Linked DNA regions of Homo sapiens. The protein of the gene in region 2 purifies or fractionates together with the protein of the main gene of each other region. This does not show direct contact. Each region holds a gene or a part of one and is shown on either strand. Other genes may lie near its edges. The genes, in order: FDXR, THBS3 and MTO1.

Region 1 (3,939 bases), on a different chromosome or scaffold from region 2:
GGCAGCTCCTCACCAGGAATTTCCAGGGCCCGATGGTCCTCTGCCCCGTAGCTCTGATGAAAGATGGCAGGCCCGAGACCCACAGCCTTCAGCACCAGCACTGATAGGCCGGGCAGCCCCCCAGGCTCCCAGCGGCCTCCTTCCAGCTTCTCAGCAGCTTGCATCCTGGCCTCACCCCTGCTGCCTTCCACCCCGAGCCACCGGCCTCCTTCTGCAGCCCCTGCCTCCCCAAGCCAGGGCCTAGCTGCACTCACCAGCACCACAGCGTGGTAGGCCTCCTGCAGCTCCGGCACCGTCACGTCCCTGCCCACCTCCACGTTGCCCCAGAAGGCACAGCGGCCAGAATGGGCCGTCTGGGTAAATGTGTTGATGACATTCTGCCAGGTCCCCCGGGAATGGGAGGGGTTAGAGGGTAAGGCAGCTCCAGGGACCAAGTCTGCACCACCCTCACCACTCTGTGTCCCCAGGAGGGAAGCTGGGTGGCATGGGCACAGACGGCATGAAGTCCTGTCATCCAGCCAGGGAGCCTCCCTGCCCTCCTCATCTTGACCAAAGTCTCCAAACCCCAGCCTCCAGGCCCAGAGACACCCACCTTCACCTCGGGGTGATCAGGCGCCACACCAAAGCGCACCAGGCCAAAGGGCACAGGCTGTTTCTCGTAGATGTCCACGTGGGCCTGGGGGTGCTGCTGGGGAACAGGGTGGCAGCTGGTGGGGCCGAGAGAGAGAGGCTGGGACGCCCCCAGGTCCTCCCCTTCCCCAGACAGAGCAGGAGAGTTCAGGACCCTGGGCTGAGAACACAAGGCTTCCACCCTCTGCAAGGAAAAAGAGCACTCACTCCTTGGGTGGCTCGCGCCTGTCAGCCCAGCACTTTGGGAGGCTGAGGCAGGTGGATAACCTGAGGTCAGGAGTTCGAGACCAGCCTGACCAACATGGTGAAACCCTGTCTCTACTAAAAATACAAAGATTAGCTGAGCGTGGTGGTAGGCACCTGCAATCCCAGCTACTTGGGAGGCTGAGGCAGGAGAACCGCTTGAACCCAGGAGGCAGAGGTTGCAGTGAGCGAAGATCGCGCCATTGCACTCCAGCCTGGGTGACAGAGCAAGACTCTGTCTCAAAAAAAAAAAAAAAAAAAAAAAAAAAGACGACGACGGCCGGCCCTCAGAGATGGGGAGAAATGTGGCCAGCTGACAAGGCCGTGGCTTCCCCCGACTGGAATTATATCAGGGCGGCTTCTTTATCTTCTCAGGTCAAGCACAACCCACAGCCCTGGCCTCCAACCCTTCGACACTTGGGACCCTCAGGTCCCAGCCAGTCTGAGGACCTGAGGGCCACCCTCTGAATTCACAGGTGCCTTAGCTCTAGTGCCCAGGACCATGCTCTGGGGAAAGGGGAGCAGCAGGACAGGGAGGGGGCACGGCTGGGAATTCACGGGAAAGAGAGGTGGAAATGGGCCTGCTCCCACTCTTAGAAAGACAGTCTCAGGCACTGGTTCTGCATGACCGCCTTCCCAGGGCACCTTGAGAGGCCGTGTGAAAGGCACAGGGTCGGGGGTCCAGCAGGCAAGTCTGGTATGGCTCTGCCACCAACCAGCCACATGATCCCAGCAAGTCCCAGGGCCTCCCCAAGTCTCAGTCTCCCCCTCTGCACACTAGGATGGATGACAGCTCTCTCTCATGGCTGCTGGAAAGCACCAGGAGGTCAGGATGGTGAGACTCTGGGCCACAGGCCGGTTAGCAGTAAAGCAGTCAGGGGTCCCACAGCTGACACGCCCAGCCCCCCATCCTATCTTAGGTCCCCGCTATGACACCTCCAGCTTCACTGGGACTCAAGGCAAAGAAGCCCCTGCCCATCAGTCTCCCTACCCCCAACAAAGGCTCCCACCCACCTCTTCGCCTTTGCCCAAATCCCCCCTTCCCCTCCACTCCCCTGCCTGCACCCAAGTCCACCCTCCCCCACCTCCTGCCTCTCTCCATCCCAGGCCAGCCACAGGGGGCTACCCAAACCACCTCCCTCAAGCCCCACGATGTTGTACCCACAAAGCGCTCTGGGCTTGGAGTCAAACAGGTAGCCTTGGATGCCAGTCCCAGCTCTAGCACTAGCTGGCTCTGTGCACTGGGGAAAGTTTCTTCTCTGTCCAAAAGAAGAGCCCTGTGGTGTCCTGCTCAAGGTTAAATGAGTAATCAGGCAGCCCGGGGTGCAACCTACTCTGAGTGTTCAATCAAGAAGAGAGCTATCATTACTATTCTGTTGTTGTATGTCACTGCCTTGCTCAAAAATCTTCGCTGGGGCCCAGTGCCACAGCATAAAGTTCAAACTGCTCGGCCTAGAGGTCAACACCTCACCCAACCAACCTCTCTGTCCTTATCTTCCATTCTTTCCTGCGACAGATCCTTCACTCTGGGTCACGATGTCCTCTCCAGGGCCACCTCCGGAACGCTAAGTCTGCCGGATGTTCTTACCCCTTATCTCTCGTGGCTGACCTCATCTTCCAGGTTTCCTCCTTCCTTCCTTCCCTCCCTCCTGTCCCTCTAGCTGCTCCCCGCTAACAAGGACATTCTCTGAGGTTCTTCCGATTGGCCCCCCTCCCTCCTCCCTGAGGATTTAACCCACTCCCTCCTGCGACCCCAAATTCCCCTGAACTTGCTGATGACTTTCTACTCTCTCTCTCCTGCCCAGACATCTCCCCAAGCTCCAAACCTGAGACCCTTGGATGTCCCACCCCAGACATCTCAAATCCATCCAGTTTCAAGCCAAGTCCCCTTGCCCCAAACCGCTCCCCACTTCTGCTCCTGTTCCCTCGACCCCATCCACTCAGAGCCCAAGCTGGAACCTGGGGCTCCTCCCTGACCCCCGACCTGATCCCATCAATCCCCCATCCTCCCAGTCCTCTTCCTCACTACAACCCCAGCAGCTCCCCACTGCTATCTGGCCACCAGCCCTGCCTGGACCTACGCTGCAGGCAGAGGGGGCATCCTGAAGGAAAACAGCAGCCCGAAAACTCTCCAGTGAAGCCAACCATCTACAGCTGTGGGCACAAGAATCCTTCGGGGTGTTTAACATTGCTGACTCTTGGGCCCAGCCACAGAGTTTGATTAGGTCCAAGTTAGGCCCAGGAATGTGCATTTTGATAAGATGCCCCGGGAGACTCTGATCAGGGAAGAGGAGGCAGCTGTGGACACCTCCCAGCGAAACCTGCCTCCAGAGCCTGGTCAATGGCTTCCAAGCCCCCCAGGATCTGGGTCCTACCTACCTCTCAGCCTCGGCTCTCACCTCCTCACGCCTTACTGCACACAGGCACCTTCCAGAACTTGCCCTTTCCCCAGAGAGCCATTCTCTTCCTCTTTGTTCACGCAGTTCTCTGTGCCTGGGACACTCCTGCTATTGTCCCCCAACCTGACATCTACTGTCCTTCAGACTGCAATTGGGACATCTCTCCCTCCAGACTGGGCATGGACCCCCTCCCCGCACCCCAGTCTCTGTGCTTATAGCCGTCAGAGCCCTAAAATACCTTGTAAATTATCCACCTGTCCCCTCCACATTCGAATGTCAGGTCCTCGAGCACAGGGACCACGTCTGTCCTGTTCACCCCCATGTTCCCAGTAAAGCCTGCGCCCAGAACATGTTACGTCCAGTAAATGATTACTGAATGGATTAACATGGATGGCCTCACATGGAGCTGCCTTCGCTCAGATCCCAGTGCCATCCCTGCTCCACGGTGGAAGCTTGGACAACCTCACTTGGCCCTAGCATCCTTACCTGTGAAGCAAGAGGCACGACACCTGCTTTGCAGGTTGTCATGAGGATGCTACGAGATGCTGTGCTCAGTGCCTGACTCAAGCTAAGGGCCACTGTCCCAAACGTGCTGCATGTGGTCCTGTCTTAGGAGCACAGCCAGTAGCTTGGAGCTCCCTGTGGGCAAAGATCAGCCCAAGGATCA
Region 2 (3,600 bases):
AAATCCTTTCCTCTATCTCCTCTCTTGCCATCTACCTGGTGAACATCTATCCTCAGAAGCTTTTCCTAACCAGTATCCCTCTTCTTGGAAGCACTGATAATGCCCTTCTCTTTGGCAGTATCTGTGGTCTGTTCCTACTTTAACTTATATGTGAATATTTTATTATATTTATTTGCTTACCTATCTGCCTTTCTGTAAACTCGAAGGGAGGAACCAAATTTTATTCATCTTTGCCTGGCAATGTTTAATATTTGGAAGAAATCTAATAGATCCTCTTTAAAGCAAGGAGTCAATGAATAAATGAAGCAAAGGAAGTCTGATTGCTAAGCTCTTTATACAAAGCCTGGCTGTGAGTCGTTTGGTCTAACAAACAATAGCCTCAGTAAATGCTGTTAAGTGAGGAGGAAGAGGAGAAGGGGGCTGAGGAGAAGGCAGGAATTCCAAGCTAGAGTAGGTCCCTGAGACAGTCCAGCCTAGTAAACCTCCGAATGGAGAAAAAAAATGCCCAAAGAGAAAGGATCTCCGCAAGGTCACACAGCCAGTGAATGGATGAGCAAGGACTAGAACCCATCACCTGAACTCCCAACCAGGCGTCTTTTCATTGCTGCATTAAGCCTAGAAAACTACAGCATAGGGCACTGAGGCCATATCGGCCACGTACGCTCTTTGACTGCCTCAGTTTCCCCCACTGCGCCCGTGCTGAGTAGCCCTGGCAAGGTTTGGATGCTTGGCTAGTTCGGCCCCCTCCCCAGTCATCAGGGCACAGCAGAGGGCGCCGGCGCCACCCCTCACCAGCACGGCCAGGCTGTCCAGGTCCACTGACGGCAGCCCCCAGCCCCCTGACCAGCAGAACAGCTCCATGGGCGCCGCCATCTTGCCCACCCTCTGTCCCGGAAACACTTCCTTGTGTGCTTCTGCCCTCCCCTGCCTGGGCCCGCCCCCCGCCACCGCCCCTCCGATCGTTGCGGTCAGGGGGCCTGGGGAGATCCCCGGGGAGGCGAGGCTTCTTCTGGCCCGACTGGCAGCTGAACTGCGGGGGACTGGGCCGCGGGCCTCGGGGGAGGGCGGCCGCCGGCCCATCCAGAGGTGGCCCACGTAGCGGGACAGCGCTGTCGGCCCGGCGCGCCTCGGAGAGTCACGGCGCCTCGTCCAAGTGGAGCCCCGAACCCCTGAAGGCGCGGCAGGCTCTGGAGAGCGGGGTCTTGTGCGCCTGGGCCAGGTCTGGGGGCTCTTGCCAAACTGCACGTGGCCTGTACTGCTCCAGGGCCCCTTGGGGCTCGTCCCCGAGCGGGGACTGCGGGGGGGTCCCCCGAGCAGCATGTTTTCCACAGCGCGTTATGTTTGGAGCGGGCCCTGCGCCGCCTGTCGCCATGGAAACAAAACAGGGGCGGTGGCGGCGGCCGGAGCGGAGGCCGGGCTGGGGCTTGGGTGGGGGAGGGGAAGAGAGGCTCGCAGGCTGTCGCTTAGGTGACGGGAACTCAGGCGCCCCTCTGCTTCATCCGGGTCACGGCCCGTCCGCTAGTACCCACAGTGTTCCACAGTCTGGTCCTTGGCTCCTCGCCTGTACCCCTGGTCTTCTGCGCCTGTCCCTGGTGTCCCTTTCCTCTTTTTTGGTTTCTTCACTCTGACCTCACTGACCACTGCTTTAGATTCTCCCTTCAGTTCCCGTCAGACGCTTCCAGACTCCCAAGCTTTCCTACGAATGAGGGAAAATGGAGAAACAGGCACTTGTCAGGGGACCCCCCACCCTAATAAAGAGCACTTGCTCCGCCAGAACAGCAAAATTCATGCCATGTGGGCATCCCTGGGCACTATAGCAAGCTAGTTGCGGCCACTCCCTTGGCATCCTTTCCTGCCAGCTGTGGAATAATGCCCACTGTCTAGCACTGCCCCTGCCAGGGGTTCTTGCCTTCCACAATCGTGGCTTCCAGAAAACAGTGGCATTCGGTAGCGCTGTGTGCCGAGACCCCCAACAATGATGACTGCGGAGAGGGAGGCACCTGGGGGAGGATCATTAGGGAGAGGTAGAAAGCAGGGAGGCCTCCAGGATTCTTTCCCAGTGCCCCTGGTTCCCAGAGCTGATGATGCCTCCAGGGTGATTGGCAGCTCTTTGTTTCAGCCCCCCCTCACCCGCCTGCTGGCCCCCCCTCCAATTCTGTCCCTCCGCCCCCCGGCTCCTGCTCTCTCCGCCTAGCCTTTTCCCCTCCCAGCTGCCTGCCTGCCAGGGGTAGTGAGCCGGCTGAGAGGCATGGAGACGCAGGAACTTCGGGGGGCCCTGGCTCTTCTCCTCCTTTGCTTTTTCACATCTGCCAGTCAGGATCTGCAGGGTAAGCCTGTCTCCATCCTCTTAGACCGCTCTCTGCTTCTTCCCCATTTGCCCTCAGCCCAAGTAGCAGAGAACATGTGGGCAAGGGGAGAGGGGAAGAGTCCAGAAATTGAGCCAGAGGAAAACTTAAGACTGCCTAGAGTTGGTGAAATTATGGCCTGGTGGAGAGGAGTGGGCACCGGAGAGTAGTGGGGGAGCTGGAACAGGACAGGGTCAGGCATGAGGCCAGGGCAGAGGACTCAGGAACTGGATGCTCAGGCTGCCTGGCTGGGGTGGTTCCTGAGCATCTGTAGGCACCCTAGGGTCTGGGAGAGCAGCCTGAAGGTGGGCGTACTGTAGGTCCCTGGGCTTCGTCCCCCTGGGCTCCTGGCTGCCCAAGGACAGGGCGGGGGTGGGGACCAAGAAGCCTGGGCTCTCCCGGAGGTCTGGTGGTGGGATGGGCCGATGGATGTGGGAGAGGTAGCTGGAGCAGATGACACAGGCATAGATTCTTTACTGGCTGGAGGGAAAACCACAGATTGGCCAGGACACAGGAGGCAGAGGAGCTGGGTCCTACATTCCCGTGGGAGATAGCCCAGATGGTGGGAGGGTTAGAGTCCTCAGTGGGCAGCTGTTCTTATCCAGAGCGAGTGTGCTGCGCCCCTAGGATGGGAGGAGGGGAACTAGGGTGTGGAACGAGCCAAACCCAGGAGTGGAAAGAGAAGCTGCCTTCCATTTCTACGTTGTGGACACCAGGTGCCACTCCTGTGGGGGATCAGCACAGCATCTCCTTTGCGCCACCTGGTGGGGGCATCTCAAATTTGTGGGGTGCTGTTTCTGTGTTTCCAAGTGAGTCTCAAACCTGCAGGTTCCTGGAAGGTAGTAATAGGCAATAATGGGGAAAGGAAGGCACAGTGCCTCTGTCCTCTGAGAGCAACAAGGGTTGAGGTTTTTTTTTGTTTTCGTTTTGTCTTTTTGAGATGGAGTTTCACTCTTGTTGCCCAGGCTGGAGTGCAATGGCGCGATCTCGGCTCACTGCAACCTCCACCTCTCAGGTTCAAGCGAGTCTCCTGCCTCAGCCTCCTGAGTAGCTGGGATTACAGGTGCCCGCCACCACGCCCGGCTAGGTGGTTTTTTTTTCTTTTTTGTTGTTGTTTTTGTATTTTTAGTAGACACGGGGTTTCACCGTGTTGGCCAGGCTGGTCTCGAACTCCTGACCTTAGGCGATCCACCTGCCTCAACCTCCCAAGGTGTTGGGATTACAGGTGCGAGCCACCATGCCCAGCCAAGGGTTG
Region 3 (3,600 bases), on a different chromosome or scaffold from region 2:
CTTTTAGGAAATCATATAGCCTCCTCTCCCCCACCCACAAAACCGCAGTTAATAGTATATATTTCTTCACAGTTATGAGCTGAATGGTTATTTTAAAGAAGAATTTCAGGAATAAATAAGTGATTTATTCACAACTTTTACAAAACAAGTAAATATTCTAATTACTGCTCGCTCCTAAGCAAAAGGAAGGAGGAAAGACAAAAGTATACATAATTTACAAGTTGATGTTTTAGCTAGTATCTATCATGATGCTACAGAACGGCCATCCAACCATTACCCATTAGAGCAAAAAAAGTACTGTCCAGTACTAAACACAAAATCCAGGGACGACAACCCAGAAGGAATATAGGATGCAAAAGGTAGCATGGCGCTGGGCACGGTGGCTCATGCCTGTAATCCCAGCATTTTGGGAGGCCGAGGCGGGCGGATCACAAGGTCAGGAGATCGAGACCATCCTGGCTAACATGGTGAAACCCCGACTCTACTAAAAATACAAAGAAAAAAAAAATTAGCCGGGCGTGGTGGTGGGTGCCTGTAATCCCAGCTACTCGGGAGGCTGAGGCAGGAGAATGGCATTAACCCGGAAGGCGGAGCTTGCAGTGAGCCGAGATGGCGCCACTGCACTTGAGCCTGTGTGACAGTGCAAGACTCTGTCTCAAAAGAAAAAAAAAAAAAAAAGGTAGCATGGTTCTTCCAAAAGGCATCACAAAATCTTGACAGAAACACAAAGATCAGGCTGGGCAGAGTACTGAGCACCTGCAATCCCAGCTACTGGTTAGGCAGAGGCAGGAAAAGTTCTTGAGTCCAGAAAGCGGAGCCTGTAATGTGCAACGATCGTGCCTATGAGTAGTCACTGCACTCCAGCCTGGGCAACATGGCGAGACCCTGTCTCTAAAAAAATGTTTTTAAATAAAAACACAAGAACCGTTTAATAAAGGATTTTTTTATTTTATTAATATTATCATTATTTTGAGACGGAGTTTTGCTCTTTTGCCCAGGCTGGAGTGAAGTGGCGCAATCTCGGCTCACTGCAACCTCTGCCCCCGGGTTCAAGCGATTCTCCTGCCTCAGACTCCCGAGTAGCTGGGATTATAGGCGCCCGCCACCATGCCCGGCTAATTTTTGTATTTTTAGTAGAGACGGGGTTTCGCCGTGTTGGCCAAGCTGGTCTCAAACTCCTGACCTCAGGTGATCCACCTGCCTTGGCATCCCAAAGTGCTGGGATTAAAGAAGTGAGCCACTGCACCTGGCCATAAACCATTGTTAATAATGTTAATTCACCCTTTATCTGGAGTAACATAGTAGAAGGTAAACGCAGCAATGAACTAAGAAGCTACCAGCGAGTAGTTGGTAGCTCCCTTTCCCAAGGCACTGACCCCGAACCCCAACCTCCTACAACGGACGACTGTCAGCAGCAGCATAATCTATGGTTCGCAGAATAGACTAATATAGAGTTCTGGCCTGGCCCGCCTGATCCTTGCGAGACACTGATCGAGGCTAAAACCACAGAAGGTAGGATTCTCACTAGCTTTGAGGAAAGGAAGAGGTCCCCCGCTTCAGACCGGGGGAGGCGGGAAGGAAGCAGCCTGCGTCCTACGCCAAGTTCCACAGCACCCGCGCTCCTCACCGATCGTGTCCACGCGGTGAGTGAGGAGCAGAGTCCGAGAGCCGCACCGAGCGGCGGCGGTGGCTGCCTCAGTCCCGGCATGTCCTCCACCAATGACTATCACGTCGAAGTGCGGAGTCCGGGGCGCCGCGCTGTCACTGCTCAACCGTGCCAACGGAAATTGCTGCTTGGTGAAGGAAACCGCGACCCAACGGCCACAGCCTCGGAAGTAGAACATGCTGGGAGAAAAATCTATCTGACTTTGAAGCTGACACGAGTGACGGTCAAAAAAACTTACGCAACAAGAGACAATCTGCAGGGCGCGGCCATCTTGCTTTAATATCACGGGGTAGGACGTCTACGTCCAGCGTCGCCGCTGATTGGCGGTTTGGAGCTACTTTCCTGGTGAGGGAGATGGGTGATCGCACGGAGGGCCGGTTGTGTATTTTCTTTCCTAGTTCGTGCGGGCTTTTTTTATTATTATTATTTTTTATTTTTATTTATTTATTTATTTATTTATTTATTTATTTATTTATTTATTTATTTATTTATTTATTTTGAGACAGAGTCTCGCTCTGTTGCCCAGGCTGGAATGCAGTGGCGCGATTTCGGCTCACTGCAAGCTCCCCCTCCCGGGTTCGCGCCATTCTCCTGCCTTAGCCTCCGAGTAGCTGGGGCTACAGGCGCCCGCCACTACGCCCGGCTAATTTTTTGTATTTTTAGTAGAGACTGGGTTTCACCGTATTAGCCAGGATGTTCTCGATTTCCTGACCTCGTGATCCGCCCGTGCGGGCTTTTTTTGATTTCCTGTGGTTCTGGGTTGGGAGCTCCTACTAAAGGTCATCTTTTGTACTTTCTTAGGCCCTGCAGTCCTTATCGCCAGGTGGCCACCTACGATCAATGAATTTGATCACTTTGCCTTATCAGATCTTTGTGATCTGACAATCTGATACACCGTCACCTTCTGTTTGTCTATAAAAACTAAGGGCTGAAAATAAGAATAGATTCGGGCCGGGCGCGGTGGCTCACGCCTGTATTCCCAGCACTCTGGGAGGCCGAAGCAGGTGGATCACAAGGTCAGGAGATGGAGACCATCCTGGTCAACATGGTGAAACCCCATCGCTACTAAAAAAAAAAAAAAAAAAAAAAAAAAAAAAAATTAGCCGGGAGTGGTGGCATGCACCTGTAATCCCAGCTACTCAGGAGACTGAGGCAGGAGAATCGCTTGAACCTGGGAGGCCGAGGTTGCAGTGAACCAAGATTGTGCCACTGCACTCCAGCCTGGGCGACAGAGCAAGACTCCGTCTCAAAAAAAAAAAAAGAAAAAGAAAAGAAAAAGAATAGATTCGAAAGGAGTTCAAATATATTTGTGGACTGAAAGATTCATGATGGTGCCTGGGCATGGTGGATCACGCCTGTAATCCTAGCACTTTGGAAGGCCGAAGGGGGCAGATTGCCTGAGCTCAGGAGTTCGAGACCAATCTGGGCAACATGGTGAAACCCCGTCTGTACTAAAATACAAAAAAAAAAATTAGCCAGGTGTGGTGGCATGCACCTGTAGTCCCAGCTACTTGGGCGGCTGAGGCAGGAGAATTGCTTGAACCCGTAGGCAGAGGTTGCAGTGAGCCGAGATCGTGCCACTGCACTCCAGCCTGGCGACAAGAGTGAGACTCTGTCTCAAAAAAAAAAAAAAGAGAGAGAGAGATTCATGATGGCTAATTGGTTAATTAGAAGAATCGGTTGGTTGGAGGTTAAATGTCCAGCCTTTTGGAATTCACAGCCTTTCTCAATTCACAGCCTTTCTCAGAAAGGCAACGTTTGACTGGAGAATAAAACAAGTGTGGTATTGCAGGATCTGGCCAGCAGCCCACAATGCAATGGGGCTCTTTCTTTGTTCCCAGGCGGATTGGCAGGTCGAGAAATAATAGACACACAGAAGATATTGAAAGCTGGGTCCAGGGGGGTCACTGCCTTCTGGTCCTGCAATGCTGCTA

Evidence for each region.
Region 1: the proteins of THBS3 (region 2) and FDXR purify together in Homo sapiens (affinity purification with mass spectrometry; 3 studies listed by BioGRID and IntAct, with this or other methods). This does not show direct contact.
Region 3: the proteins of THBS3 (region 2) and MTO1 purify together in Homo sapiens (affinity purification with mass spectrometry; 3 studies listed by BioGRID and IntAct, with this or other methods). This does not show direct contact.

Annotation. Positions count from the first base shown.
Region 1 is NC_000017.11:74,866,192-74,870,130, forward strand, and holds part of FDXR (NADPH:adrenodoxin oxidoreductase, mitochondrial isoform 1 precursor), read right to left. Parts: intron 2,563-3,939; exon of another isoform or gene 2,375-2,562; coding exon of another isoform or gene 2,354-2,374; intron 815-2,353; coding exon of another isoform or gene 686-814; coding exon 593-685; intron 378-592; coding exon 255-377; intron 54-254; coding exon 1-53. UniProt on the Homo sapiens protein: Serves as the first electron transfer protein in all the mitochondrial P450 systems including cholesterol side chain cleavage in all steroidogenic tissues, steroid 11-beta hydroxylation in the adrenal cortex, 25-OH-vitamin D3-24 hydroxylation in the kidney, and sterol C-27 hydroxylation in the liver.
Region 2 is NC_000001.11:155,206,525-155,210,124, reverse strand, and holds the start of THBS3 (thrombospondin-3 isoform 1 precursor), read left to right. Parts: upstream 1-2,227; 5' UTR 2,228-2,248; coding exon 2,249-2,327; exon of another isoform or gene 2,328-2,904; coding exon of another isoform or gene 2,905-3,154; intron 3,155-3,310; exon of another isoform or gene 3,311-3,408; intron 3,409-3,568; exon of another isoform or gene 3,569-3,600. Other genes in the region: MTX1 (metaxin-1), read right to left, coding at 793-1,320. UniProt on the Homo sapiens protein: Adhesive glycoprotein that mediates cell-to-cell and cell-to-matrix interactions. Can bind to fibrinogen, fibronectin, laminin and type V collagen.
Region 3 is NC_000006.12:73,460,099-73,463,698, reverse strand, and holds the start of MTO1 (5-taurinomethyluridine-[tRNA] synthase subunit MTO1, mitochondrial), read right to left. Parts: upstream 1,963-3,600; 5' UTR 1,845-1,962; coding exon 1,628-1,844; intron 1-1,627. UniProt on the Homo sapiens protein: Component of the GTPBP3-MTO1 complex that catalyzes the 5-taurinomethyluridine (taum(5)U) modification at the 34th wobble position (U34) of mitochondrial tRNAs (mt-tRNAs), which plays a role in mt-tRNA decoding and mitochondrial translation.